Homo sapiens: one gene and its partners. The protein of the gene in region 1 purifies or fractionates together with the protein of each later gene. This does not show direct contact. Each region holds a gene or a part of one and is shown on either strand. Other genes may lie near its edges. The genes, in order: CHCHD4, ENSA, TOR1AIP1 and CCDC127.

Evidence for each region.
Region 2: the proteins of CHCHD4 (region 1) and ENSA purify together in Homo sapiens (co-immunoprecipitation; 2 studies listed by BioGRID and IntAct, with this or other methods). This does not show direct contact.
Region 3: the proteins of CHCHD4 (region 1) and TOR1AIP1 purify together in Homo sapiens (co-immunoprecipitation; 3 studies listed by BioGRID and IntAct, with this or other methods). This does not show direct contact.
Region 4: the proteins of CHCHD4 (region 1) and CCDC127 purify together in Homo sapiens (co-immunoprecipitation; 2 studies listed by BioGRID and IntAct, with this or other methods). This does not show direct contact.

Annotation. Positions count from the first base shown.
Region 1 is NC_000003.12:14,111,068-14,115,883, forward strand, and holds the end of CHCHD4 (mitochondrial intermembrane space import and assembly protein 40), read right to left. Parts: intron 2,128-4,816; coding exon 1,820-2,127; 3' UTR 1,010-1,819; downstream 1-1,009.
Region 2 is NC_000001.11:150,626,613-150,636,113, forward strand, and holds the start of ENSA (alpha-endosulfine), read right to left. Parts: upstream 3,001-9,501; 5' UTR 2,859-3,000; coding exon 2,802-2,858; intron 2,528-2,801; exon of another isoform or gene 2,494-2,527; coding exon of another isoform or gene 2,449-2,493; intron 981-2,448; coding exon 855-980; coding exon of another isoform or gene 720-854; exon of another isoform or gene 434-719; intron 1-433. UniProt on the Homo sapiens protein: Protein phosphatase inhibitor that specifically inhibits protein phosphatase 2A (PP2A) during mitosis.
Region 3 is NC_000001.11:179,912,375-179,920,896, forward strand, and holds the end of TOR1AIP1 (torsin-1A-interacting protein 1), read left to right. Parts: intron 1-1,623; coding exon 1,624-1,680; intron 1,681-5,077; coding exon 5,078-5,865; 3' UTR 5,866-7,702; downstream 7,703-8,522. UniProt on the Homo sapiens protein: Required for nuclear membrane integrity. Induces TOR1A and TOR1B ATPase activity and is required for their location on the nuclear membrane. Binds to A- and B-type lamins. Possible role in membrane attachment and assembly of the nuclear lamina.
Region 4 is NC_000005.10:214,322-222,749, reverse strand, and holds the start of CCDC127 (coiled-coil domain-containing protein 127), read left to right. Parts: upstream 1-4,596; 5' UTR 4,597-4,657; intron 4,658-5,890; 5' UTR 5,891-5,900; coding exon 5,901-6,021; intron 6,022-8,428. Other genes in the region: SDHA (succinate dehydrogenase [ubiquinone] flavoprotein subunit, mitochondrial), read right to left, coding at 4,332-4,394.

The DNA of each region.
Region 1 (4,816 bases):
TCGTTTTTAAATGTGCAAAACTCTGTTAAAAGAAGTCGTTAGGGTCTGTCATGCCTTCCATGCTTGGCCAGCTCCAGGTTCTTAGCTCCTAATCAAGCAAGGTTTAAAAAAGCTCTGGATATAGAAAGCAGTTCTCTACCTCCATACACCTCCCAACCACAAATCCTTGCATTTTAACCATGCCTTCAAGCTTTAACATGGTGGCGCCTCATTCTCCAGTGTGGCAGGCAGCTTCCTGTTACTCGTATTCTTGTGTCCCTCTCCTTGAGTGTGGGCTGTGTCTCACTTCTAACAAACAAATAGACTATGGTAAAGTTATGGAATGTCCGTTTTGAGATTAGGTGATGAAAAGGCTCTGGCATCCATCTTGCTCTCTCGCTTGCTCTGATGGAAGCCACCTCCCATGTTGTGAGCTGACCCTTTAAGGCAAAGGCCATGTGGCAAGGAACTGAAGGAGGTGTCTGGCCAACAGCCAGTAAGGCACTGAGGCCCTCAATCCACAGCCCACAAGATTCAACCCACTGAACCCTCCCAGAAACCACTTCGAGCGATCTTGAAAGGCCTGTCCCACCTTGAGATGACTACAAGTATCATAGCCTCATGAGACACTGAGCCAGAGAACCCAGGTAAGCCATGCCCAGATTCCTCGTTTCAAGCTATTAAGTTTTAAGGCAATTTTTTACATAAATAACTTAACACATTTGAGACAAATGAGGCATTACTATGCCACAGCCTGAAAACTGTCTAGCAGTTACCTTAGGCAAGTTAATCTATTTTCAAACAGGAAGAGCCTTCCCCACCTCATAGACTAACTGTAATGTCTGTGTGAAGGCATCTGCTCACATATAAAATAAGTAAGCTTCCTTTGAACTCAACACAGAAAATTTTAACGGACTCAAATTGGTTTACCAATATCTTTCAAGAGGAATTTCAATTGAATTGTTCATAATTTATACTTTTTTATATAGAAAACATTTTTAACTAGTGAAAACAAAGGACACATTCAAAATCAGGTAGAAATCATGTTTCCTTTTAATTGAATACTTAATTCACAACGTTTCCTCTCTTGCTGCTACTCTGGTAATAATTAGGTCCCCACCTCTCAAGAACATTGCACCTGACTAGACTGAGAGCCAGTGTGAACATGGGCCCCAAACCAGGGCTTTCGGAATAACAAGGAACAGCCAAGCCAGCCTCTCCCTTCACTTAGAAAGGGATTATGAATGGAAGGGTCCAAATCTTCATCATCCAAACACAGAAAACCAGGAGCTCAACACCTACATGGAAACCAAAATGTATCAGGAATAAAGTACAGTACCCCTTCACATACTCAAGGTCAAGATGGGTTTGCAGAAATCATATCTGACCATCTGGCCTCTGCTAGTAGATATGGCCCCATCCCAGCATTTTTAAGAGATGTTTTTGTTGTATTATTTCCCCAAGGGGTATAAAATCTACCAAAAGGAATATAATGAATCAGAATAAATCAGCTCACTCACAAGAAACGTTCTTGGGTAATGGTTTTTAGTTGCTGAGCTTATTCAGCACATTATTTAAAAGTGGCAAAATTCAGGGCAATCTGAGAATTCAAAAGTGGCGGCCACAGGTTTGGGTAGGACACACATACATACAACCCCCATTTTTTTCAGTGTATATGTCAAGATGTCAAGACCTCAAGACCTCTGATCATCAAAATAAGTTATTTTGTATATTATAATGCACAGGACAACAGAAGGAAACTTTCTTGGAAGGTGATGACAAGGCCTTTTGCAAAAGGTCCACTCCAAAAGGACTGGTGCCCAGTGCCTTGTGGCCTTCATTAACTTGATCCCTCCTCTTCTTTGGTTGCAGTGGCCTCAATGGGAGCTGTTTCTTCTGCTTGTTCTGCTGGCTTCTTCTCTCTTTCCTCTTCCTCATCCTCATCCTCTTGGGGATAGAGGTCTGGGTATTTCTGCATGCATTCCTGCATGGCCCGGAACTGGTCTACACAGTCTGACCCCTTGATCTCCTCCGTGCTATAGTGGAAGCAGGAAAAGGCTGACTTAAACTGTTCTCCACAGGGACCGCTGGCCATTCCCCCAAGGCATGGGCAGTTCCAGTTAATGTTTCCATTTGGCAGTATCAATCCTAGAACAGGAAGATAGAGAGATGTTCTCTAAAGTTTCAGAAAATACAAAACTAGTCCAGTCCTCACAGGCTACTGAGGGGGTGCAGAACAGGAACTATTGTTGCCTATGGACCCACACCTCGATTTGGATTAGGTTTAAAGCCTAGCACATATCCAGCATTCCTTGGCCCACCTGGGAGAGAAGCCACCAATGACATATTTCTCCACGTGTGACACTAATTTATTCTAAGCCACCTCTCAGTGCTCTGAGGCTGTGCTCCAAGAATTAAATACCGGGACCCATTTAGCCCAAAGAAGAGGAGATCACTTGGATGGTTAGTGAGGAGCTTTTTGAAAGCCCAAACACTTTAAGGAACTGAGGTATTGATCTCCTCTTTCCAATCCCCCTCCCCATATGGATGATCAGGACCACCCCACCCCCATGCTCCCTGCCCCCCTGAGCCCCTCTTGCCCTGCAGCTGCTCTCAGAAGCTCAGCATAGCCTGGGGACTGGTGAAAAGGAGGAGGTTGCTCCTTATGTACTGACGAAGAAAGATGTCCAAGACATGCTGCACAATGAGAAGCTGGTGGCATACCATTAGTGCGAGTGCATTCTTGTAAAAATCAACCAAACCTGTTAAACTGCACATATGTGTTGGGCAGGAAGCAAGGTTATAGATGGGTTTTCATTTTCACTATATTAATAGGCTTCTTACTTTTGACTTTTATACCTTTTCTTATCATTGAACTTTATTCACATCTAAATAGTATTTCTTGGTTTTCCAAAATGCTCTCAAAACGATGGCTTCATTTTCAGCTTTGTGAAGACATGATTCATACAGAAGTTTCTTACATGATTCTTATTAAGAGACTGAAAGTACTTTCTAAGAGAGCCTCTAAAAGGTCCTGTGAAATTACACATGATTCTTCACTCCAGGGCAGTACCCAAGCCTGGCACTCTGCACTAACGTCCAAAGTCCTAGGCGAAACCCCGCCTGCCTTCAATTCCAGCTTGGGAAGCTCCACTGATCAATGGATCTGCTGTAGCTATTCCTGTTCCTTACTTGTAAAATGGGGACAGCAAGGACGATGCCAACTAGTGCTGCCCCCTTAGCAGGCGCAGACCCCCAGGACCATCAGCAGTTGCAGATCAAGTTCTCCTGCATTAAGCTACGTTTGGTAACTCACATAAGCCTTCTGACAACCTTCTGCAGTGGGTGCTACTAACCCCAGTTTACTCATGCAGTCTCTGGGGTTCATGGTCCAAGTGAGGACTGCAGACTGGGCTGACAGGATTCCCAGAGTCCATGCCCCTTCCCCTACATCTCACCACTTCTTGAAATGGACCTCAGTGCTGGAGAAACATTTGCAAATGCTGCCCCCTGGAGCTTCAAATCTGCTCACAAACCTGCACAACCAGTTTCCAAAAGAGGTAATACTGACATTTAAAAATTACAACCCAGTACAAATTGACCAGGTGGTTGATTAAAAAAAATCATAACAAAAAATGTATAACCTAGGTCTCCAGGAGTCCTTGTTTCATTGTTTCTTAGGGGCAGGTAAGCTGGAATGAGATACCTCCTCACAAAGCACATGGTGCCAATTTGCATTTCAGGGACACAATATAAATCCACACAGAGGGTACCTTTGGCATGTTACATAAAGCTCAGATGCAGTGTGTTGTCAAACATGCAGTCTAAGGCCTGAAGTTCCAGTCTCTGGCTGAGTCAGTCTCCGCCCCCGCCCAGGCCCCCAGTTTTCTCATTGGATCAGATGATCTTTAAGGCCCTCTTGATGTTTTGATTCTAGGAAAATTAATTCTGCCACCTTTTTTCTTGGTACTCTTAGCTATTCCAAGCACCATCTCAGCTGCAGAGCTGGATGCTGGAAGGCAGGTAGATGGCATAAAATGGTGGCTTACTTGGTCCACTTACTAATTTTGCAGTTTAAGAGCTTGAAACTTGGGTCCCAGAGTTCTTTGCGTTTTATAGGCTTCTTTTTACAAAGTATTCACTATAAGGGGCTGTAAAGCCAAATGCATCATATGGTATACCTACTATCCAAGCAGATACATTGCAAGTGACAGAAGCAGGTAAAAAAAAACAACAGGGACAGGAAAGAATGGTGGGATCTGGAGGGGGCAGACCAGTCTAAAGGCAGATACGTACTGCTTTTAATAACACTGTGAGGCAAACAAAACAAGGCCCGATTTGTCCTGCAGGCCTCCACAGTCTTGATCAATTAATGAAATGTGCTTAATATGGATCTAAAGATAAGCAAGGTACTAGAATTGACATGTAAGCCCTGATCAAGATTACCCTTGCAGCTGTCTTTCTCAGAATGCTAACACTTTGTATAACGTCTGCATTTCCCACTGCTCCCACTGGGTGCTGGATATGTATTTTATGCTTTAACCCCTAGGAGCAGTCAGGGCAACAAGTGAAGGGTCCTACAAGGAATATACACACATCAGTTAGCATTTGAGAAATTCCAATCAGGAGCCCATATTCTCGAGGCGGCTGCTTCAAGCTCTTCAATTACCAGTTAGCACTAGAAGATTAGTTGTCATCATGGACATCAGAAGTGGTTTTTGATTGGTGAAGTGACTACTGTACAATACGTAGATTGTTCATGGACACTGCACACACACATCCACCTCACACGGTCTGCAGTAGTAAGTATCTAGTGAGTTTAGCAGCCCAAATCCTT
Region 2 (9,501 bases), on another chromosome or scaffold:
GTGGCACGATCTCGGCTCACTGCAAGCTCCGCCTCCCGGGTTCACGCCATTCTCCTGCTTCAGCCTCCCGAGTAGCTGGGACTACAGGCGCCCGCCACCACACCCGGCTAAGTGTTTGTATTATTAATAGAGACGGGGTTTCACTATGGTCTCGATCTCCTGACCTCGTGCTCCGCCCGCCTCGGCCTCCCAAAGTGCTGGGATTACAGGCGTGAGCCACTGCGCCTGGCCAAATTTTTTTTTTAAAAAACGATAATATAATCCCTCAGTCAGCTTTAGGTACCTTTGGGAACTAAAAATCTGATCAGGAGCTACATGGCTATGAAAGTAGACTCTCTCTTGGTAAGGAGGACCACTCTGAACAAGAAAAATACATTTGCTGCAGGAGTATAATTAATGGCTGGTGCTCACTTCAAGGGTATGAAGAAACTGATTCATTTCAAGTTGAGGATTTATTTCTGTAGGAGAGATGGTTTGATCTTCTTCTGAAATGATGCATCCCAAAATTTATCTCTAATGCTTAAAAAGTGCACAATCCTAAAACCTCCAACATTCAAACAGGCAAATGCCTGGGGGCAGTCTGCATTTCAGTTTCTAACATCTTTCCCTCATTTCCCCACACACCCAAATGCTCCAATTTAGGCCTTAATTTCCTACATGGGAAATCAGGAGGGAATTGATACCACATCAGGGATTTACATTAATTTGACTTGCTCTTTTCAAATTTCAAATTCGCCTCTACTTCTGTTCAACAACAAAACCTCCAGAAAAGGATCCAGTAGAACCTCTACAGACTTCATTCGAAGAACCTCCTTTAGCTCCAAAGAAAGAGGGTAAGAGACTATGCCCCATACCCCTTTCTGGAGTCTCTTCATGAGGAAGTCGGAGCCTCCAGGCTTTTGTCCTAGGCTTGGGTATTTGGCCTTTAGCTTTGCCTCTTCAGCTCTCTCAGGCAGAATACCTTCTTTCTCCTGCGTGTCCTGGAGAAAACAAATGAGCCAAATAAAATTAAAGACTGAGAAACAACAGCTTCTCACATCTGATAACAACTATACTATCAACTTCTCCTGGAAATCCACCCACTTGTAAATACGCTATCTCTACTCTGCTGTTAAAGCTAGACCTTTGTTAAAATCCCTAAAGCTCAAGATGACTATTGTGAGAGAAAAAGACAAGCTGCTTCTCACACTTCACCCAAGGAACCAGCCAGGGACCTGTGCGTATTGGGCTAAAGGTAATACTAAACACAATACTTTAATCACAGAGTGGGCCATATCACTCAGCACAAATGCTAAGAAAGACAAAGAGAAAAAAGCAGGGCTTCTGGTGATAGAGGATGAGTAGCAGGGTTCCCTAGGCTATCCTACATGTCACATGAGAAATTAAAAAAAAAATAGTTTGGGGCTGGGAGCAGTGACTCATGCCTGTAATCCCAGCACTTTGGGAGGCTGAGGCAGGTGCATCACTTGAGCTCATGAATTCACTACCCGCCTGGGCAATATGTTGAAACCCCGTCTCTACAACAACAAAAAATAGTTTGCTAAATGTTTCCTCCTTATTTTTTTCTTTCTTTTTTAAAATTGCTACACGACAAAGCAGTTCCTTCTTTATTCAAGGTCTAAGCCACCTGTTAGGTCTCCCTGTGGAGGCGGCTAGCTATGTGGCCTTCTCCAAAGATCTCCACCTGAGTAATGGCACAGCCTTGCTTCAACATTTCCACAAATATTATGGTAGCAAGCTGATAAACAGAGAGGAAAATGATACTGTTTTTAACCTCAGGAAAACAAAGATACAGTAGGCTCACTAGTATTTACCCACCAGTTTTCATCAAAAAAATCAATACCTACCCTGGTGGTGCAGGGACTCTCACTACTGTAGTCAATCTCTTTTTTTTTTTTTTGTGGTCCCTGCTGCCCTTTAGTGACTTTTTGAAAAGATATGAAGTCAACGTATGACTCTTTTTAGTGGAATTATATTCCTTTCTCTTGGAAATTACGCATAGATATAACACCAAGTGTATTTAATGAGTACCTGAACCCAGTACTAAATTTTAAAAGTCAAATACAAACCCCAATAAGGGGTTTATTTGGCGTTAGTGTTTCCATCACGGAATCGCAGGTGCACTAAGTCCCTGCCTTGGAAGTCTAGGGGAAGAGAGAAGTGTCTTTCTCACGACCCTGTCGGCGTCTTTTCCAAGTTTAATTACCATGATTCTGTTTGGAACTCTAGCCCTCTTCAATATTGCTGGGTCCTCACTGAAGGTGAGCAATAGACCATCCTTAGCTACTAAAATAGGTCTCTTGAGAAAGTTGCCGCCTTAAACTAGCCATTATAATAACTACACTTCTCCCCTCCCCCAATACTGGTTTTTTTTTAAACGTCTTTACCTCGACCCCTATCTTTGCGGATTGAGGCTGCGGGCCCCAGCCCGGTTGCTGGGTCACTTACCTCTACAAACCAATAACACACATCACACCCAAGACCACCAGCCATCCCCTTTCCATTCACCGTCTTTCCAACCACCCGCCCCACGTCCATGCTCGGCCAATTATAGCACAGCGTCCAAGGTTTGAGCGGTAGGCCTATTGGCCAATCAGGAAGAGTACAGTACTGAGTGACAAACGACCCAACTAACCAGCGCCAAAGCAGCATGTCGTGTTGAAGCTCACCCAGCGTGACGCAAAAAGTGGCCAACCCCTGCGGAGCCTGAGACCATGGCGACCAATCCGCACTGGTGGGAGACCGTCTCCCGCCCCATCACGGTCTCCCCAGCTCGCCCGCCCGCACCCCTTCCACTTCACCTGCTTCTCCTCGCCGGTCTCCTCCGCAGGGTTCTCTTCTTCTTGTTTCTGGGACATGGCGGGACCGGGACTGTGGAGTGTAAGGGGCCCGGGAAGGCAACCGGAGAAGGGAAGGGGGAGGGGAAACGGGGACAACCTGCGCTGCTGCTTCGGCTCCTGTCACTAGGGTTGCTCAGTCAAAATGGCGGCCCTTGCCCGTGACGTTGCGACCGCCCCTTCCTATGAGAGCCAGTGGGAGTGAGGTAGATAGGGCAATGACGTAACGATCTACCAATAGTCGCCGTCTAAAGGTGGGCTCTATAGAGGCGACCGGCAAGCTGGAACACCAACCTGGAAAGAGAGTGAGCCACAAGGACCAATTGGAAGCCTGTGGGGGATATCGGGGGCGGGGCTGCTGGCTGTGGTACTTTTGCAGCTTTGGTGGGCTCCGGCTTCCTTCACTCCAGCCCACCGCGTCCGAGAGACTTAGCAGGGCGTCAAACTGGAGAGCGGAAGGATGGAACCTTTTATTCTCAGGTGGAGAGGATTAAGCTTTGCGGTGTTAGCAGAAAATGATCGAGCTCCAGAAAATGATTTGGAGGTCAGATTCGATTTTAAAGTAGTACTAACAGGCCGGGCGCGGTGCCTCACGCCTGTAATCCTAGCACTTTGGGAGGCCGAGGTGGGCGGATCACCTGAGGTTAGGAGTTCGAGACCAGCCTGACCAACATGGTGAAACCCCGTCTCTACTAAAAATACAAATATTAGCCGGGCGTGGTGGCGGGCGTTTGTAATCCCAATTACTTGGGAGGCTGAGGCAGGAGAATCGCTTGAACCCTGCAGGCGGAGGTTGCAGTGAGCCGAAATCGCGCCACTGCACTCCAGCCTGGGTGACAGGACGAGACTTTGTCGCGAAAAATAAAATAAAACGGTACCAATGGTATTACGATGTGTCACTTGGCCTGTGGAAGAGAGAGACTGAGTCTCAACCCGAGCTGTCTTGCAAAACACTAATGGCTTACGTTCCGTAGTTTCACTCTTATGTGTAGTTTTTATATTCCATCAGGGTGATCCCTTGGGGACTACGCTCCTTGAAACAAGGAGGACAGTGTAAGTATGTGGTAAACATTTGGTAAATACGGTTAATACTAGTTAACCTATCCAGAATTACAGTTTAACATTTCCTGGGCGTCTGTCTGTATGTGGATGGTACTGTGTTAGTTGGGGGGGGTACGTGTATAGTAAGGCAGTCTCTGCCCTTAGAAAGCTTACAGGCCTGGCTGGGCGCGGTGACTCACGCCTGTAATGCCAGCACTCTGGGAGGCGTAGGCGGGCGAATCACTTGAGGTCAGGAGTTCGAAACCAGCCTGGCCAACATGGTGAAACCCTGTCTCTACTAGAAATACAAAACAAGGCTGGGCACGGTGGCCCACGCATGTAATCCCAGCACCTTGGGAGGCCGATGAGGGTGGATCATGATGTCAGGCGATAGAAACCATCCTGGTCAACATGGAGAAACCCCGTCTCTACTAAAAATACAAAAATTAGCCAGGCGTGGTGGCGTGCACCTGTAGTCCCAGCTACTCAGGAGCCTGAGGCAGGAGAATCGCTTTTACCTGGGAGGCGGAGGTTGCAGTGAACCGAGATCGCATCTCGCCACTGAACTCCAGCCTGGGTGACAGTGAGAGTCCGTCTCAAAAAAAAAAAAAAAAAAAGAGTGGCAGATAAGAAGTGCTCTTTATGGAGATAATTTGGTGGTAATGAATAAAAAGACTCAGAATTCCAAGCAGAAAACTACCAGAGATGAACAGTCTAGCCGAGTCCTCTGCAAACGTTAGGTGGGAGATAATTAGGATTTAACCTAGAAACGTAGTAGTTAAGAATAGAAAATAGTGAACCTAACCAAGAGAGTCTGTGACAATGGAATCCACTAGACTAGCAGCTGACTGAATAGAGAATGAGAAGACTGTGTGCCTCAAGGTGATTATTTATAGAAACAATAAATTCAAGAAGAGGAGTCAATTTGGGAATGGAGCTGAAAAGCAGAGAGAAAATAAGGCATTCAGTTTTGAAAACATGGACTTTTTTTTTTTTTTTTTTTTTTTTTTGAGACGGAGTCTCGCTCTGTCACCCAGGCTGTAGTGCAGTAGCACAATCTCAGTTCCCTACAACCTCTGCCTCGCGGGTTAAAGTGATTCTCCTGCCTCAGCCTCCCGACTACAGGTGTGCGCCACCATGCCCGGCTGATTTTTGTATTTTTAGTAGAGACAGGGTTTCGCCATGTTGGCCAGGCTGGTCTCAAACTCCTGAACTCAGGTGACCTGCCTGCCTCGGCCTCCCAAATGCTGGGATTACGGGCGTGAACCACCGTGCCCGGCCTGAAAACATGGACTTTATTAAAAGCGAATGAACCATTTGGTGGAGACATCCAGGCAATGAAGACTTAGGATAAATGACCTCTAAGATCTCCATATCTGAAATTTAAGGGTTCTAGGAAATGTAAGTGTGGGAGTTTGGGAGAAAAGTAGACGCTGAAGATGTACAAATTTTGGACTTTTTCACATAAATGTAAGTAAAGTTGTGGAAGTTGATGGGATCACAAAGGAGAATGTAGGAAAAAAAGAGGTTCCAGTCAGGTGCGGTGGCTTACACCTGTAATCCCAACACTTTGAATGGTCAAGGTGAGAGGATCGCCTGAAGCCAGGAGTTTGAGGTTACAGTGAGCTATGATCATGCCATTGCACTCCAGCCTAGGCAACAGAGTGAACCCGTCTCTTAAAAAAAAAAAAAAAAAAAAAACTCCCAAGACAGAAACGTGGGGAAAAGTTGGCAAAAGACATACAAATGATCAGAGTGGTAGGGAGAGAATTAGAAGAGAGAAGAGCCATGGAAAGCAAATGAAGAAAGGGAGGGCAGGTTGTCAATGTTAAATGTGATACAGAAATTAAAGATGGAGGTGATAGAGGTCAATCGCAAGACGTTAAGGAGCGAGGAGGTGGTACCAATATTGAACAGTGGTAGCAATATTTAACAGTAAAGCAAGGAAAGGGCAGAGCTGTAGCAGCAGATTTTCTTTTGGGGAATAGGCAAGACTCAAGCATGTTTTTAGAAAAGGCGAATGAGGCTGGATGTGGTGGCTCACGCCTGTAACCCCAGCACTTTGGGATTCATCTAAAAGATGAATAATTCTTTTGGGAAATACTTTCTGATCAAGCTATTTCTAATTCCAAGCTCTGCTTAAGAATAATGTGTAAAAACTATGATTGCTAAAGGAACGATTGATTTAAATTATACATTTGTCCTTTTTTTTGAGACTGAGTTTAATTCTTGTTGCCCAGGCTGGAGTGCAATGATGTGATATCTCGGCTCACTGCAACCTCCCCCTCCCAGGTTCAAGTGATTCTCCTGCCTCAGCTGTGGGGAAAAGAAAGAGAGATCAGACTGTTACTGTGTCTGTGTAGAAAGAAGTAGATATAAGAGACTCCATTTTGTTCATCTTGTGAGTCGATGGCGCACGATTGCGGTGTTTCTGTCTCCGTGGAGGTGCTTTTCTTTGCATCTCCGATGGGTTCATTGTAGAACTTCAAATGTCTAGTGGGTATCCAAACAGGAAGCTGATTTTCTCCTGGTGAAACACAAGCAAAACCTCTCCCCCATGTTACCACCTTCCCTATTTCCCATGTCTTATTTTTATTATCTTTCTACCAAATCAGTTTTCCTTCATGTGGGCTGTTCTTTTTACCAGTAAGATGTTGTTCTGCAGAAGTAGTAGTCTGATTTCTATAAATGTTTAAAAAATATAAAGTGCTAGATTAAGTTGCATCTGAGGCGTGGTACATTCCTTACTGTCTCCCCCTTCTTTTTATTTAACTAATTGAGTTTTGAGTGTTCTATTAGTTCTTTCAACTATGGCCTGTCCTTGGGAATTATAAGGAATTCCTGTTGTATGTGAAATTTTCCACTGACTTAAGAATTTTTGGAAAGCTTTACTACAGTATCCTGCCCCATTGTCAGTTTTAATTTTTTCTGGAACTCTCATTACAGCAAAACAAGGTAATAAATGTTTTTTAACATGGGAAGTACTTTCTCCTGTCTGGCAGGTTGCCCATATGAAATGTGAATAAGTATCAACTGTTACATGAACATATAATAATCTTCCAAATGAAGGTACATGCGTGACATCCATTTGCCGTAATGCATTAGGACACAGACCCCTGGGATTAACTCCTGCCTCTTGAGTGGGCAGGTGTAGGACTTGACACTGGGTGCAATGTCGTACAATATCTTTTGCCTGTTTCCATGTGACATCAAATTTGTTTTTTAATCCTGCTGCATTTACATGAGTCAAAGCATGAAATTTTTGTGCTTTTATGAATGCAGATGATACCAGTAAGTCAGCTGGTTCATTTGCTTTAGTCAAAGGCCCTGGTAAATTAGTGTGTGCTCGAATATGAGTAATATAAAATGGGAAATTTCTTTTTCTTACAGTTTGTTGTAATAAATTGAATAGCTGGTTTAACTGATCATCCATGCTATATTTAATTAGAGCTGTCTTTACATCCCTTGTAGCCTGTACTACATATGCAGAATCTGATACAATATTGATAGGTTGATCAAAATCTTGTAACACTGTAATGACTGCAACCAACTCTGCCCTTCGAGCCAATTGATATTGAGTTTTGATTACTTGCTCTTTTGGCCCTGTGTAAGCCGCTTTTCCATTGCTGGAACCATCAGTAAACACTGTCAGAGCATTTTCTAAAGGTTCACGTCTGGTAATTTTAGGTAGAATCCAAGTAGTTAATTTTAAAAACTGGAAGATTTTTGTTTTTGGGTAATGATGATCAATAATTCCCACAAAATTAGCAAGACCAATCTGCCATGCACCAGAATTGATAAAGGCTTGTCTAACTTGTTCCTTGGTTCAAGGGACAACTATTTTGTCTGGGTCATTTACACACAATTTTATTATTTGTAATCTTGCCTGACCAATTAATGTAGCTATTTGATCCAAGTACAATGTAAAAGTCTTAATTGTACTGTGAGGAAGGAATGACCACTCCACAAGATCAGTATTTTGAACAGTGATGCCTGTTGGAGAATGTGCAGTAGCAAAAACCAAAAGTTGGAGTGGGGCTAAGGGATCTATTCTATTTATTTGCACTGACTGAATTTTTTGTTCCACTAATTTAATTTCTTTTATTGCCTCTGGGGTTAATATTCTCTTACTATTTAAGTCTGAGTCTCCTCTTAAGATAGAGAACCAATTTTCGAAGCATCAAAAGCCCATTTAAATTTGGTACCAGAAACTGAGGCAATCGCAGGAGTGACTGATGGCCTCGCAAATCTTAACCCTGTCACTTGGGTTAAGACCATCGGAAGTACTACTATTATAAATTTCGTATTAATCCTTGTGTGCCTGTTTTATCTGTTGTTAGTCTGCAGGTGTACCCAGCAGCTCCGAAGAGACAGCGACCATCGAGAACAAGCCATGATGATGATGGTGGTTTGTCGAAAAGGAAATGGGGAAATGTGGGGAAAAGAGAGATCAGACTGTTACTGTGTCTGTGTAGAAAGAAGTAGACATAAGAGACTCCATTTTGTTCTGTACTAAGAAAAATTATTCTGCCTTGAGATGCTGTTAATCTGTAACCCTACCCCCAACCCTGTGCTCCCTGAAACACGTGCTGTGTCAACTCAGGGTTAAATGGATTAAGGGCTGTGCAGGATGTGCTTTGTTAAACAAATGCTTGAAGGCAGCATGCTTGTTAAGAGTCATCATCACTCCCTAATCTCAAGTACCCAGAGACAATACGCTGCGGAAGGCCGCAGGGACCTCTGCCTAGGAAAGCCAGGTATTGTCCAAGGTTTCTCCCCATGTGATAGTCTGAAATATGCTGGCCGGGAAAGACCTGACCGTCCCCCAGCCCAACACCCGTAAAGGGTCTGTGCTGAGGAGGATTAGTAAAAGAGGAAGGAAGGCCTCTTTGCAGTTGAGATAAGAGGAAGGCATCTGTCTCCTGCTCGTCCCTGGGCAATGGGATGTCTCGGTGTAAAACCCGATTGTATGTTCCATCTACTGAGATGGGGAAAACCGCCTTAGGGCTGGATGTGGGACATGCTGGCAGCAATACTGCTCTTTAAGGCATTGAGATGTTTATGTGTATGCACATCAAAAGCACAGCACTTTTTTCTTTACCTTGTTTATGATGCGGAGACGTTTGTTCACATGTTTTCCTGCTGACCTTCTCTCCACTATTACCCTATTGTCCTGCCACATCCCCCTCTCCGAGAAACGCCCAATAATGATCAATAAATACTGAGGGAACTCAGAGACTGGTGCCGGTGCGGGTCCACTGTATGCTGAGCGCCACTTCCCTAAGCCCACTTTTCTTTCTCTATACTTTGTCTCTGTGTCTCCTTCTTTTCTTAAGTCTCTCATTCCACCTGACAAGAAATGCCCACAAGTGTGGAGGGGCAGGCCACCCCTTCACTCAGCCTCCTGAGTAGCTGGGATTGCAGGTGCGCGCCACCATGTCTGGCTAATTTTTGTGTTTTTAGTAGAGGCGGGGTTTCACCCTGTTGGCCAGGTTGGTCTTGAACTCCTGACCTCAGGTGATCCACCCATCTGGGCCTCCCAAAGTTCTGAGATTACAGGCATGAGTCACCGTGCCCAGCCCATTTATCCTTGATATAGCTAAATTACTGAGCATTAGGAAGG
Region 3 (8,522 bases), on another chromosome or scaffold:
TGTTGATAAAAAGGATAGCAGTTATACTTTGGACAATGTCCTGCCTTGGCAGTATATACCCTGCTGTGTATGTGTTTGTGTTATATGAATTATATAAATATTATATATGGTACATAATTATTATTTAGCTGTCCTTCATCATTAACATCATAGAATTGCACTTCACAGCATTTTTGTATATATTATCTCATTTGATCTTTGCAACCATGGAGTGAAGTATTCAAAATAAACATTATCTGATGGATTTGGGTTTCATGTGGTTAGGTATTTTTATTGTTATTTTAGTTGTAACTTCGATAACCTAACTTAGAAGCTTCTAAATAATGAAATATCCTAAGCTAAACTAGTAATTGAAAAACAGTATTCCTCTTACAGTTGCTGTCATTTTGTCTTACTACATCATTATGGAGTTTTTTGTCATATGATCAAAAATAAGGCTATTTCTGAATCTTAGCAGGGCTAATATTATTCCTCCAGTTATTCCAGTGTTTCTCAAATGAAAGTTGTTGATATAACGCTAAGAAGATCCACCAGGAAGTTCATTTATATATACAAAAGTTATAAAACTCCAGGCAAGTGATAGACGGCAATACTGGTAATATAGGTCATACAAATGAGATAACTCAGCCTCTCCACCTTCTGAAGCCTGTCCTTCCATTTCCTCTCTTAGATTTTAAAACCTGCTGGTATGCTAAGAAAGATGGAAGGGAAAGGGAAGGGTTAGGATCATTTTTAATTTCTTTTCTTGTTTTTAATTTTTTTTTTTTTTTTTAGAGATGGGGTCTCACAATGTTGCCCAGGCTGGCCTTAAACTCCTGTGCTCAAGCTGTCCTGTCACCTCAGCCTCTTGATTTGTCGGAATTACAGGCATGAACCACTGTGCCCGGCTTAATTTATTTTCTAAATAGATTTAGATGAAAGTAGAAATTTGACAGAGTTGAGAGAAAATTATTTTTGAGCTCTATTGTTTAACCACAAGCCTAAAACAGAATTACTTTATTACTTGTCTATTAACAGAAATGATGAGAAGTTTTTAAATGTGATTTTAAAATACTACTAGTATTTGAAATGGTCAGAATCCCCAGAGGAAATACTGAATCAGTTTGAGGTAGAAAATAGTGAGGATTAAGATTTTTATATTAAAACACCTTATCCAGACAGCTCAGTAGTCTGTAATCCACATTTTGTCCTTATTTTCCCCCTCTTTACAGCATCTTCACCAGGCAAGAGTTCAATATATGGCAGTTTTTCAGATGGTATAATATGTTTCATTTTATTATGGTGTGCTTAGTTTCTTTGTCCTTTTTATCCCGGAAGTTTCACCAATCCCATTAGATACTTAATGGGTCAAATACTTCCAAACTTTCTCTCAAAACTAATTATTGTGTGCTTTGTACTAGACCCCACCATATGCTGTGAAAAGCTATGAAAGAAATAGGTCATGTGTTTCAAGGAGCTCTCAGTCTAATCGGCACTCAGATATTCTACTTTTTCTTCTGCTTCTGGCTGATCTCTGTCTTCTTTTTTTCCTGGTGGAATTTGTATCTTCTTTGTCTACTAGAAATAAATACTCAAATTATGAAGCATAAGTTGATAGTCTTATTTTATTACTCTCACCATTAGATGACAGCATTCTGAAATCAGAGCTTGGAAACCAGTCACCATCAACCTCCAGCCGACGTAAGTTTATGTATTCAGTTTTTATTAAATATTTCTGTAAAATTGGTATTCCATAATTGTTTAAAAATGTTTTTTGACAGCAGTATGACTCGATGCTATTTGAAGAATCACATTTTAAGCACTTGAGAGGAAAAAGTATATATTCTACTAGCAGTGAAATTCTTTATAGACAAACTTTATGAGACAACATCTGGTATTGCTCTTCACTTAACTGTCTATAAGACCAAAAATAATAGCTAAAATAAGTAAAGCTACTAATACTGTTAACTGAGAAAACCATGCTGAATTGAAAGAAAGTTAGCCAGAGCATGACTTTATGGGATTACAATGGCTTTCGGAGTCTGCAAACCTGTATTTGAACTAGATTGGACCACTTACCTCCTTTACAGCCTTGTGGCAAGTTTCTTTAGTTCTCCAAGTCTTATTGTCCTGAAAGAGTACTAAGAAAATAACTTAATGGGCTGAGCGTGGTGGCTCATGCCTGTAATCTCAGCACTTTGGGAGGCCAAGGCAGGCGGATCATGAGATCAAGAGATCGAAACCATCCTGGCCAACATGGTGAAACCCCATCTCTACTAAAAATACAAAAATTAGCTGGGCGTGGTGGCACACGCCTGTTGTCCCACCTACTCAGGAGGCTGAGGCAGGAGAATCACTTGAACCCAGGAAGCGGAGGTTGCAGTGAGCCGAGATTGTGCCACTGCACTCCAGCCTGGCAACAGAGCGAGACTCTGTCTCAAAAAAAAAAAAAAAAGAAAATAGATTAATGATGATTCTGAAATTTTTTGTTCTTGGTACCGCTTTACACTAGTAAAGTTATTAAGAACCTCAAAGAGCTTTTTGTTGAAAATATGGGTTATGTCTATCCATATGTACCAGGAAATTAAAGTTGAAACATTTTTTAAAATATGTATTAATTTATTTTAAAATAATTTAGCAAGAAGAGTAACAGATCAGATTGCTTTGCATTTTTTCTAATCTCTTTAATGCCTAGCTTTAAAAAATGGATTTGGATTATCATATATGCTTCTGTATGCAGTCTGTTACAATATATTATTTTTGTTGAAGTATCTACAAAAAATCCAGCTTTTATACAGATATGAAAAATTTTAATAGCCTCTTCAGATAATTGTGGCTATTCTTTTTTGAACTCTCCAAAACTCAACAAGTGGTAGTTTCTTAAATGTTACTTGAAATAGGATATCTAAAACCATCTTACTGAGCTTTTAGTACTCTATTACATTAAAAGTCATTGGTCTTTCTTATACTTTGAATGGAGTATCATGCACTGGTCATTTGGAAAACATTGGTTCACTGAGGAATGCAGATTTTCCAAACATTGACACATTAGGAATGTAATAAAAAATATCACATTTGTTAACATCACTGCCAATCTCAAGACTTTAAAAAAGTGTTAAAGGGTGGGGTTCGTGGCCCATGCCTGTAATCCCAACATTTTGGGAGGCCCAGGCGGATGGATCACCTGAGGTCAGGAGTTCAAGACCAGCCTGGCCAACATGGCAAAACCCTGTCTCTACTAGAAATACAAAAACATTAGCTGGGAATGGTGGCACGCACCTGTAATCCCAGCTACTTAGGAGGCTGAGGCAGGAGAATCACTTGAACCTGGGAGGCAGAGGTTGCAGTGAGCCAAGATCGCACCACTTCATGTCATCCTGGGCCACAGAGCGAGACTCCATCTCAGAAAAAAAAAAGAAAGTGTTAAAGTACAATATTGGGAGTTGTCAAGCTCATGGTGGCAGATTTAGGATTCTAAAATCCTAATTTTCACTTGAAAGCAAATATCTGCCAAATACACAAGTCTGACTGTAGTTTGTTACTTGTTCTTTCAAGTAAAAAATAGTATTCCATGAAAAATGTGCTAATTCGCCTTGTAATTCATTTGCACAAAATTCTTTTCCTTGAGACAACCATGGTACTGTATGATGCAGCAGAAGTGCTTTGTGCATACCTTCCATTTGTTCAGAAAGAATATTGACATATGTACTCAAGGATTCAGATTTAATAAGATAAATAATTAACTGCTTCATAAAGGACATTCTTAAGTAAAAGAATGTCCCTTTGTTAAATCTTGAATGCATGGCAGTGAAAAATAACAATGACTACACTCGTACAGTTTGGTGCCACTGCCCTGTAACTCATGCTAAGGCATCAGAAGTTTTTCTCACCATAGCTTTTGCGTCATCAGTGCAAATGTCAACACAAGGTGAAAGTCAAATAACATCTTAGTGTTAGAAGAATAGCTTTAACTTCATGGACCCCCCTCCCCACAAAATAGGGTCTTGAGGTACCCCACAGACCACGCCTTGAGAATTGCTGCTCTAAAAGGTCCCTACTAAAATTAATAGCCTGAAACAGTCAATAAGTAAAAGATGTAAAAGTATTATTGTTACTATCAACTGAATAAATGAAGTAGAATATGAGAAAGTACTTTATAAACCGAAAAGCACTAGATAAATATAAATTAATCCTATTATTATTGCCAATAGTAACTAGGGATGAGTCACAAACTAAATTTTACCAGTGTTAACTTGCATACCACAAAAGGCATCAGTGAAATTAATCTAAAGGGACAGCTAGCTATTATAACACGTAGAAGATGTTCATTTATATTGCATCCTTTTCTTTTTTTTTTTTTTTTTTTTTGAGATGGAATCTCTCTCTGTCACCCAGGCTGGAGTGCAGTGGCGTGATCTCGGCTCACTGCAACCTCCGCCTCCCGTGTTCAAGTGATTCTCCTGCCTCAGCCTCCCAAGTAGCTGGACTACAGGTGTGTGCCACCACACCCAGCTAGTTTTTTGTATTTTCAGTAGAGACGGGGTTTCACAGTCTCGATCTCCTGACCTCGTGATCCTCCCTCCTCGGCCTCCCAAAGTGCTGGGACTACAGGCATGAGCCACCACTTCCAGCCTGCATCCTTTTCTTTATCCCTTTATGTACTTCAGAAATATTTCACCTTGAATAATTAGCCATGTGAATGCTGAGTTACTAAATTAAAAAAATATTTTATAAATTGTATTTTAATAGTCTATTCTCCCAACTATTAGCAGTGAAAATAATAACTTCGCTTTATAAACTATTATTTTTCTGACTTGTTTATGCCATTTCATATGTTTAAAAACTTTTTTCCTCAAAGACTTATTTTTATATTGAAGAGACATATGCATATTTGTACACATAATTCAAAGCCTATGCATGTAAGATTTTCTTGAGAATGTGATAAATTATTTTATTAAGAAAATTATCAGCTTTCTTCTTTAAAGTCCTTCCTCTTTTACCTAATGTTTATAAAGACTGATATTGATTTTAAAAGTCACTTGCCCCTGAATCTAAGAAAGTGGTATTTATATCTGTCATTTCTTTTTTGTCTGAGTAGAAGTGACTGGACAACCCCAAAATGCATCTTTTGTCAAGAGGAACCGGTGGTGGCTACTTCCTCTGATAGCTGCTCTTGCCTCTGGGAGTTTTTGGTTCTTTAGTACTCCTGAGGTAGAAACCACTGCTGTTCAAGAGTTCCAGAACCAGATGAATCAACTTAAGAATAAGTACCAAGGTCAAGATGAGAAGCTGTGGAAAAGGAGCCAAACATTCCTGGAAAAACATCTTAATAGCTCCCATCCTCGGTCTCAGCCTGCTATCTTACTGCTCACTGCTGCCCGAGATGCTGAAGAAGCACTTAGGTGTCTGAGTGAACAAATTGCTGATGCCTATTCTTCTTTTCGTAGTGTCCGTGCCATCCGGATTGATGGGACAGATAAAGCTACTCAAGACAGTGATACTGTCAAACTAGAGGTAGACCAAGAACTGAGCAATGGATTTAAGAATGGCCAGAATGCAGCTGTGGTACACCGCTTTGAGTCATTTCCCGCAGGCTCTACTTTGATCTTCTACAAATATTGTGACCATGAAAACGCGGCCTTCAAAGATGTAGCCTTAGTCCTGACTGTCTTATTGGAGGAAGAGACACTTGGAACAAGTCTAGGCCTAAAGGAAGTTGAAGAAAAAGTAAGAGATTTTCTTAAAGTCAAGTTCACCAATTCTAACACACCCAACTCCTACAATCATATGGACCCAGACAAACTGAATGGCCTCTGGAGCCGTATTTCTCACTTAGTTCTGCCTGTGCAACCTGAAAATGCCCTGAAAAGGGGCATCTGCTTATAAGAAGTGAGAGAGAAGAAAAATCATGTCCCAAGTTCTGAGAATTGTTCACACTTTCTAACCAGAGACAGAATTCAGAGCTCTTTTTGAAAGAACTAGTTTCTTTTTAAAGAAGTTAAGTGCTTACATAAACATGGAACATATAAATCATTCATTCAACCTAATTATCTGTGATATGAGAGAATCATTTCAGTTTCCATTGAGAGCTCTGTTAAAGGTATCTTAGGAGTGCAGATTATATGCAGTTCCTTAGAGAATCTGTTTTGATTCTGGGCTGAGTTATTACAGTTATGGTATGACCAGTGAGAGGGATTTGTGTCCTTTCTTATGAACCTTCCTGATTTTTTAACTTAGATTTCTCACTAAGTTTCCTGAGTTATTAGTAAGATTGCTCCCTAAATGTAACCAGGGATTTTCCCATTATGTTCCCTTTTATACCATTTAGGTGTGAGTTCCTTAGCTTCTGCCTATAGGAACATAAGTAATGAAAGGTCATCTAGGTGTGTGTTTGGAATTTTTTTCTTTTGTTTTTTGGAAAATGGAAAGAACAAGGCAAGGAAGGAAAATTAATGGGGAAGCTGAAGGGAGGAAATGTTACAGTAATCCACTGAGATGTAGTTTAGTCAAACATAGGTATATGAACTGTTAATCTTGGTGGATTCCGTTGGGATTTGTTTTTTACATCTCCTTTTTCCTTCCTTGAAGAAAAATTCTTGGCTGTCCCAAGGATTCTTCATGTATATTGCAAAATTTAATATATTTGTTCACTTGAGTCTTAAGAGTAGGTCAGGCCAAGGCAGGTGGATCACCTGAGGTCAGAAGTTCAAGACCAGCCTGGCCAACATGGTGAAACCCCGTCTCTACTAAAAATACAAAAATTAGCTGGGCGTGGTGGTGCATGCCTGAAATCCCAGCTACTTGGGAGGCTGAGGCAGGAGAATTGCTTGAACCCGGGAGGCGGAGGTTGCAGTAAGCCGAGACCATGCTTATTGCCCTCCAGTCTGGGCAACAAAAATGAAACTCCGTCTCAAAAAAAAAAAAGTAGGTCAATTCGTAACAGTTTATTTTGGACACACCCTGAAGCTTTTGTTTTGAATTAAGAAATGAGTTTCAGGAATTGACAAACCATTTGTTAACCAGCTGTCCTGGGCTATTGAAGAAGATTTCATTTTCCGCGCATCCACTTGTTGCAGTCCAAGTCCTCTAGTGCAACGCCATAGCAAATATAAAGATTTACTATGCACGTGATACATTTTATGGAGTGCCTCAAGCCAAGATAGTGAATTTATATGAAGGGTGTGAAATGTATTTCTTTACTACTATAGTAGTTTAGTTATAACTTTGCATCTATAATTGAGCTTTCTCATCTGTCAAATGCTATGGTTTTCTTAAAATGTTACAATTCTAGATCTATCCACCTTGTTTTTTTATTGTCTACAAACCATTAAATGTAAATATTGTTTTTAGAGTCAGTCATTGGCTTTGTCATTTACCCTTTGAGAGTTCCACAAGTGGTAGTAGAGTGGTTTAACGTCTTTCCTCTAGTACTACCAGTATTCATAAATGTATACCCCTTACTGTAATTTGTTCCTCTTAGAAGTCAGATCATCTGATTTATAGAGGATTATGAAAACCAGAGTTTTTGAAAAGGCTTATTTTATACATACGTATTATATAGAGAAACAAATGTTTTTATTAAATGTTTCATTGACCCAAGTAATTTAAAAGTAATATGTTACCTATGTCTTTCAGGAAAAATAATTATAGCAGCTGATCTGTAAATGACTTTAAAAGCTATTTTAGTAATTTAAATAAATTTACTTTCTTGGTTTATACTCTCTATGTGTTATAAACTTAATGATTTATCATCTTTAAAAAAAGAAATCCAAGTATTTTCCTTGAACAATTGTAGCAACTCTGGCTAGGAGAAACAAAAATCAAAGAACTGGAGCCATTTGCAAGTACATTGGTTAGAAGTGGAATAGCCGTAACTTTCCATTTTATCTCGGCACTTAGGGTTTTTAAAAATACAGTTAAGTTAGATATTCCTGACTTAGCAAAAGAATCTCCACAGCAGCTTTTCTTTTTTTTTTTTTTAAGTAGACATGGGATCTCGCTATATTGCCCAGGCTGTTTTTGAACTCTTGGCCTCAAGCAGTCCTCCTGCCTAAGCCTCCTAAGTAGCTGGGATTACAGGCATAAGTCACTACACCTGGCTTCTTAACCTTTTCTTTATCACCTCCCTGAAGAACTTTTTTAGATTTTTTTCTTAGTCACCCCTTCCCCATGATATTTCAACACCAGATATATACTATGTATCTGTTTATGGACTGTAAATGTTTTTTGCTTTATACAAAATAGAATTTTTTTTTGTCCCCAATGAACCAATTTTCACCCCCATTGAGAATGCATGCTCAAGAGCATCCACGTTTTAGATAATTGCTGCCTAAAATGTTCTATTTGCTATTCATGTTACTGTGATCCTTTTAGAAGGGAAAATTTATTTTTTATTTTTTTTATTTTTTATTTTTTTTATTTTTGAGACAATCTCACTCTTGCCCAGGCTGGAGTGCAGTGGCGCAATCTCGGCTCACTGCAACCTCCGCCTCCCATGTTCAAGTGATTCTTCTGCCTCAGCCTCCCGAGTAGCTGGGATTACA
Region 4 (8,428 bases), on another chromosome or scaffold:
CCATATGCTAAGGTTGGCCAGCCATTTAGGGGATACGTTTTCCATTCTGCTGGCTACATTTGAGAAGACCACTGAATAGTCTCAGAAATATCATCAAGAATAGTTTTAGGGGCTGGGCACGGTGGCTCATGCCTGTAATCCCAGCATTTGGGGAGGCCAAGGTGGGTGGATCACCTGAAGTCAGGAGTTCAAGACCAGTCTGGCCAACATGGCAAAACCCCATCTCTACTAACAATTAGCTGGGCGTCGTGGCGGGCACCTGTAATCCCAGCTACTTGGGAGGCTGAGGCAGGAGAATCGCTTGAACCCAGAAGGCAGAGGCTGCAGTGAGCCTAGACTGTGCCACTGCACTCCGGCCTCGGCAACAGAGAGAGACAACGTCTCCAAAAAAAAAAAAAAGAAAAGAAAAAAAAGCTTTAGGAAATAAATGCAATCAGAAGAGGGGATGTGAGGAATGTCTTCAAGTATTTAGAAATACTTGCAATTCAGAAATTACTTATTATGTGGGATAAAAAATTATTCTTCATTTCTCCAATTTCTAGTCTCTGTTTTTATTGGTATAAGCTAATTCAGCTTTTTTCTTTTTTCAGAAAATGAATGAGAAAGAACAAATATTCTTCTACCTTAGTAAAATTTTTGCATGGTAAAATCATATTTTAAGAAAGAAGTCTTTGAAATAATTTTAATACAAATGTTCTTGAAAATGTTGTAAAGTGCCCTATTAACATAGTAATAGCACCAGTAAGAACAGTATATTATACCAAATGTAAGTAGAAACAGTGAGATCACTCAATGTTTATTCGTTCTTTCTAGGATGTTGATGTGGAAGACCCACTGCCCACCCCCCACCACACACACACAGAGCTGGCTTAAAAGGGGCAGCTACTATAACACAATCTTGAACAAATTATCACGCCATCCCCCTGGCGAAAAGGACACTAACCCTCTCAATCTAAATCTAATCTGGGGCAGATTTTTGAATTTGGAAAGCCCAACTTTAAGCCAATTTCAGTCTTTAGATAAAACTCAAAACTAGTTTTGACACAAAACTAGTCTTTTGTGCCAATTGTTAATTTTTTTAGGAGAAACTATCAAACATTTCCTCAAGAAAAAAAATGGGGAACATATAACTAAAAGGAATACTTAGACCTTGCTTAACAATACAGAATTTCAGATGACTGAATTAGGAGGTGGAGGGGAAAAGTAAGAAGTGCAGAGACATTCATATCCGAAATCTAGCAAAGTAAGGGGTCCTCATCTAATACAACGCACCTATAAATCACGAGCAAGAAACTAATCTGCATGTACAACCTACACAATCACAAAAGCAGCCAACGAAGAACCTAAAAACGCACGACTGTATCAGGAAGAAGCGGAAGCAGGGTAGTTTAAGTGAACTAAATCCCCTCTCTAGGCAAGAAGTCTAAAACTGATAAAAATGCACCTGCATATCCGCTAAAGAAACAGAGGTATTACAAATGCCAGGAGTCAGTATCAGAAACAGGAATTGCTTTCATGGAAAATGAACTGGGTGAGGGAGGGTATACTCATTGATTCTTTTACAACTGCGTGTAATTATTCTCACTAGAATTTTAGTGTTTATTATTTTAAAAACAGGGATACTTAAAATACAGTTCGGCCGGGCGTGGTGGCTCACACCTGTAATCCCAGCCCTTTGGGAGACCGAGGCGGGCGGATCACGAGGTCAGGAGATGGAGACCATTCTGGCTAACATGGTGAAACCCCGTCTCTACTAAAAACACAAAAAAATTAGCCGGGCATGATGGCAGGTGCCTGTAGTCCCAGCTACTCAGGAGGCTGAGGCAGGAGAATGGCGTGAACTCGGGAGGCAGAGCTTGCAGTGAGCCGAGATTGCGCCACTGCACTCCAGCCTGGGTGACAGAGTGAGACTCTGTCTCAAAAAAAAAAAAAAATTCAGTTCACACATGGTTACTGTGCATAGGCTGTGAGCCCTGGTTCTCAAGAGCATCACCAAAGGTTTCAAACATTACCCACAGAATCCTCACTAACCCCACGGAAAGACGGAGCTCAGAGAGGATTCAAGTCGGCCGGCCTGGCTCTGGATCCTGGACTTGCCCCCCTATCTAAAGACCCTTGGGAAAAATCTCTGAGACTCCCAACTAATATTAATATCCAGGTTTCATATCAAAAAACAAGTCACAATTTTTCAAATAAATCAGGAAAAACATCATGAGGAATGCAGAATGGAATGCCATTGTTGTTACAATTATCCCAAGAAGCAAAGCAAAGGTTTACTACTATAATGGCCTAAATAATGTATTTCTAGAACACCATTAAACATATTCAGAACAATCCATTCAAAGAAAAGAAATCAATTTGTCCTAGAACAATATATTGGATGTTCATGTTAAGGGATTTGAAAAACTTCACCTGAAGTAAGCAGTTAACCAGTAACTATTGAAGTTTCTTGGTTTTCTTTTTCCTCTGATTAAACTGCTTTCGAACAGTTTGCAAGCTGTGTCAGTGCACTGGGCCATAAAAAGAAACCAAAAGCAAAATAAGTCTGATAAGTTCGTCACTTGAAAGCAGTTGTAAATACAGAATGATCAAAACACCACAGAACTGGCCAAAATGAGGTTAAAAAATTCTCTCTGGACTTTACTGAAATTATCCTCAGCATCTATTTTCCAAACACATTTCTCAGTTGGCTATCACGAATTTCTTTCTTTTTTCTGCTAATTTTTTGATTATGCTGTTCCTTCGTAAACTCCAATTCTTCAGGAAAAAAAGCCTATCTGAAATGCCGATAAATATGCTGCTTGCAGGCAGAATTTCTGTAGGAAAAGCTAACTTCATCAAGATAAAAAGACTTTTACAAAACCCAAGACTAAATTTTGGTTCAATTTTGCTATCTTGCCATCCCGTCTGAGGTGCCTCCGCCGCTGGCAGGGTCTTAGTCTGCAGAAGGAACACCGGGCACCATCTGGGTTGAGGACAAAGGCACTAGCTCTAGCTTTTCTCCAATCACAAGCTACCATTTCCCCTAAAAAGCCCCACTGACCATGGGCTTTCCTTCCTGCTTGTGGACGCCCTCCTAGCAGCTCTTAAAAGCCCAAGATGCGGCAGGGGTCTCTGCTCAGTCAGTACCAACCACAGCAACACACTAGAACGGTTTACACGCTTTCTGATGTTGGCAGGATGGCTGTATGACTAATCCTCACATTTAACTCAACGAGATTTTTAATAAGTATTTCAAAAAGGAGAAAATTGCACAATTACAGGCATAATTCAAATCAATATTGCTGAATGCCTTGGTTCCTATTGAGATTTTTATTCTGCAATTTAAAATTACTTTGTAATTAAGGAGGTGGGTGGGTAAGTTCATTTAAAAGAACCAAACAACTAAACCTATCCAATTTAGCTTGATTAAATAAAACCCTAGAAGGCCGATTCTTAAGATGCAATCGTAGAGGGCACATTCAGACACTCAGAGAGCAAGGGCTCAGGGAAGTATAACCCTGACCACCATCCTGGACTAAGCCGAGCCCGGCCCTAGAGGCACTCAGCGCACAGGCAAGCACAGGTCCCGGCGTCCTCGCCCGGTCAGTGCGCTGAGCTCTCCGCCTGAGTTTTAAAAACTGGCACAGCTGCTTTTAAACACTGGCACATTTTTGGTGGCATAAGGACCACCAAACACGACCCAAAGTAGAAGCCCTTAACTTACAAGGTCTCGAAGTGGACATGGACAGATTTGCGCTTTCTGGAAAGGCGAACTGCAAGCCTAAGCTCGGGCGCGCCACGCTTCCCACCGGACGCCCACCGGGCCGAGCCCGGCCACTCCTCGCACCCACCCGGGCGGTCTCACCCGCCCCGCCGGCCCCACCCACGGGCTGCGGGCTGCTCCTCAGGACAACCCGCACAGAGGGCGGCAGAGGCCCAGCCCAGCCAGGGCGGCCACCGGCCGCTATCCGCCCGGGTGACCTTGGGCAGACACGACTCCTCCCCGAGTCCACCTGCCAGGCACTGAGGCGAGGGGCTACCTCAGCCCGCGGGGTCCCAGGACCCCAGGCCCGGACCAAGGCGGCGGAGGGGACGCCCAGCAAGCCCGCGGGGTTGTGACCTTCACCCGGACGCGGACTATCTACTAAGGACCGAGCTCCCCGGGTCCCCGAGTCCGCCCCGCGGCTTCCCCTCGCACCGGCCCAGGGCTCTCTCAGCCCCTTCCCGATCCCGGGACAGAGGGCGCAGGGACCCGGCGCCCGCTCCGCTCGGACCCGCTGGGGACCGTCCCGCTCCTACCGCCGCCTCGGCCCCCGCCTGCCCCGCCCCGGTCCGCGGCACGGACTCACCGCCTTGGCCAGCGCCAGGCGCCGAGCGCTCAGCAGCCGCGACAGGCCCCGGACCCCCGACATGTCTGCTGTTGCCGCCGCGCAGTCCCGCCAGTCCCTGCGCAGACTGCGCCTGCGCACCACACCGGGGTCGAGCTGGCGGGGGAGGGGGGATACCGCGCCTGCGCACCACGCCGGAGTCGAGCGGGGCTGCAGTGGGGGACATCGCGCCTGCGCACCATGCCACGCCCGGAGCGGGTACTGAGTGGGGGCGCCGCGCCTGCGCAAAGCGGACCCGCGGACGGTGGCGTTAAGGGAACGCTGAGGTCCCGCGCTCCCCGACCGAGGTAGAGCGGGCCCTGTTCCGGGGAGGTGGTGGGCACCAACATTTTTAAAGCCCCGTGGGTGGTTCTCCGGGATCGCCCAGACCGAAGGGCCTGAACGCCCAGACCGCAGGGAATGGGGTCGGAGGGGGGCGCTCGTCCGCGGAGGTGGGCGGGAGCGGCCCGGGGCCTCCGACCTCTTGTTTATTATACATCCCTTGATTAACTAAACTATTTTGTAATTGTGTGTGTTTGTGGAGGTCACATGTAAACAAACTTAAAGTGACTCTACTTTGTGAAAATGTGAAACTTCGTGTAGGTACTCAGTAAATCAGTAAATTCTTACTAACGTTAGCCCCCAGCCTAGCTATGGAGGGTGCATGCTGAGCCCGAAGCAGAGAACTCTGTAATCTCTGCATTCATCACCACCACGAGGAGGCCTCAGAAGCTTCTAGCACTGTTTGCACCTTCCCCACATCACCCCTCCCTGCCTTCCTCACAGTCTTCCTTCTGATCAGAAGACCCTTTCCTTCTTTCTCTGCCTGTCAAAATGCTGCTCACTCTTCAAACCCTAGCTCATATGAAAGTGTCCGGTGTGAGCCCACTTTTATCGAGTTGATTCTGTATCTTTGATACAACTGTATGAGGGTTCTCCAGAGACACAACAAATAGAAGGGAGACGTGAGGAATTGGTTTAAAGGTTCAATTGCTAATCTCATCCAAAAACACCCTTACAGACACGCCCAGAAATAATGCTTAACCATGTATCTGAGCACCTCATGATGCCGTCAAGTTGACAAACAAAATTAACCATCGCAGCAGCCATACATTTAAACATATTTGTACCAGAGAACTTACCTGATTCTACCTGCACTTCAGATGCTTAAGACATGTCTGTTTTCTCCACTTTCCCCAACCAGATTGTGAGTCGCTTTCATCTTAAGTTCTTGTTTTTTTTTTCCTTTTTCTTTTTCTTTTTTTTTGGGGGGGACGGAGTCTCGTTCTGTCACCAGGCTGGAGTGCAGTGGCGCGACCTCGACTCACTGCAACCTCCACCTCCCAGGTTCAAGCGATTCTCCTGCCTCAGCCTCCCGAGTAGCTGGGACTACAGGTGCCCGCCACCATGCCCGGCTCTGGTCTAGTTTTTTTCTTCTTTGAATCCCGTAGGGCCTCAGTGCTGTGCAGCAAGCACATAGTTAAAACTGAAGAAAAATTTCTTGAATAAAAGTAGTTAACGTTTTTATTCTTTACTTCAAGGTATATCTCCATGAATAACCTAAATGATCCCCCAAATTGGAATATCCGGCCTAATTCCAGGGCGGATGGTGGTGATGGAAGCAGGTGGAATTATGCCCTGTTGGTTCCAATGCTGGGATTGGCTGCTTTTCGTAAGTCATGGTTTTCTTAAAATTCGTGTTTTCCAGGCTGAGAGTGTGGAGCCCCGGTGAGGGAGGCAGCATGGTGTGGGAGCCTGAAGGCCGTGACTTTGGGACCTGCCAGGGACAGCCGAGTTTTATCCCCTGCAGTGAACCGTGGGCAAATCACTTAAGCTCTGAGCCTCAGTCTTCCTGTTCACAGGAGATGGATAATCATACTTAACCTCAGCACACTGCAAGGATTAAGTCAGCCAAGGCGTTTAGAAGCATTTTGTGTGGGGTGGGTTTTAATAACTTAGTTCCCTCTGAAGGCTTTGCTGCTCTCAAGTCGGGGAGGAGGTTCCTTATTTCAGGTGCCCTCATAAGGACTGCTGGGGAACAAAACGGGTGTAAAGGAAACCAGTGGGCTGGGCGTGGTGGCTCATACCTGTAACCCCAGCACTCTGCGAGGCCCAGGTGGGCAGATCGAGTGACCAGCCTGAGCAACACAGCAAAACCCCGTCTCTACAAAAAAATACAAAAATTAGCAAGTCGTGACGGTGCACACCTGTAGTCCCAGCTACTCAGGAGGCTGAGGTGGGAAGATCAGTGGAGCCTGGGAGGTCGAGGCTGCAGTGAGTGGAGATGGCACCACTTGCCCTCCAGCCCGAGCAACAGGGTTAAAAAAAAAAAAAAAGAAAACCAGTTTTGGAAAACCAGTGATGTTTAATGTTTAGGAAATCAGTCTTTGGGAGACTTCATCCATGAAATCTCTGCTTGGCCTGGCCAGAAAAATTCTCTCTAGTTTAGATTGACTTGGCACCACTTTGGGGACCTGCCGGTCATATGCAGACTTACATCCCCACCACACAATCAATTCACTGATGCAGAGGAGTGAGTTTTGTGTTTCTTCACATTCCATGGTTCTGGGCTGGCACTTAGGAACATGAGAAACTGAATAATTGAATGGAAGAAAGGCAAAACTGCCCTCTAGTTGTAGCGATACATTTTGTGTAGTGGCTTTTTATCTGCTTCCATGTCTCAGGTCAGAAGTTTTGCTGTAGAGGAAGAGGAGGCTGGTAAGAGCAGGTGGTTTTTATGATTCAGTGATCTGCGCAGTGCTTGCTTCTTGGTGAAAGACAGGGCAGGTCCACATCCAATCCTAAGGGGCTGCCATGTAAAAAGCTCATCCGCCTGCAGGCTTGGGAAAAAAAACCCTTAACACTTGGAGAGGCTACTGTTGCCTGTGGCTAGGGTGAGTGGATTGGAAGGCTTAAAATTACTCTGACTAATGTAATAATTAATTGGCTTTGAGGCTGGGAGAGGCCCTGAAGTGACTCATTTTCCATTTGTTTTTCAGACTCATCTCCAGCTTTTATAGCCTTTCATGATAACTTTCACTTTTGAAATTCTTACCTTCCCTTCTTGGACTTTTGAAATGATGCTTTCTGTCCCTGAAAAGGGTTGAAGAATATTTTTTTCTTCCTGGTTTTTTGCTGAGGTAGTGTGGTCAGAGAGAACTGTTAAGTTGGTGTTCTTGTAAGGATTCTCCAAAGGTGTGTTACGATGTGTTTGAGGTTCTGTTGCACATAGGAGCGTTAACCAGCCCCTAGTGTAGTCTAGAAGAAGAGGCAGACATATGAATACTTGATAAGCGCTATTGGTTGATTTATTGATGAGAGGCTAGTTTTGTCCTGATCACTCGCTTCATTTACTAGAATTTTTTTTTTTTTTCGAGACGGAGTCTTGCCCTGTCGCCAGGCTGGAGTGCAGTGGCGCGATCTCGGCTTGCTGCAACCTCTGACTCCCTGGTTCTAGTGATTCTCCTGCCTCAGCCTCCCGAGTAGCTGGGATTACAGGCGCCCCTCACCACGTCCAGCTAATTTTTGTATTTTTAGTAGAGACGGGGTTTCACCACATTGGCCAGGATGGTCTCGATCTCCTGACCTCATGATCTGCCCGCCTCGGCCTCCCAAAGTGCTGGGGTTACAGGTGTGAGCCACCGTGCCCAGCCCATTTACTAGATTTTTACTTAACATAACATAGAAATGTGTGTAATTGTGCTTGCCCGAAAGAGCAGTCCCTGGAGAAATTCTTACCCTGAGTAGCTCCCAGGGGAGAATATTCAGTATTTCAGCACTCCAGAGGGCTTCTCTCTCTTCACACCTCCTCTGTCATTCTGCTTCCCCCCTTTTCTCTCAGTCTTCTTGATTGCCCTTTCCCCATCTCTCTCTCCGTGCTTTTCCCATCTCTCCGTGCTTTCTCCCCTCTAGTGTTCCTGTACCTCCTGTTTCCTCCCCTGACCCAGAAAACATAGTTTTAGAGCTGAAAGGGACTGGTTGAGTTCACTGGGCCCAACTCAGTTTCTTTTAATTAAATATTTTATTTTGGGGTCATGTAAATCACATGCAGTTGTCATCAGTAATGCAGAGAGCCCGTG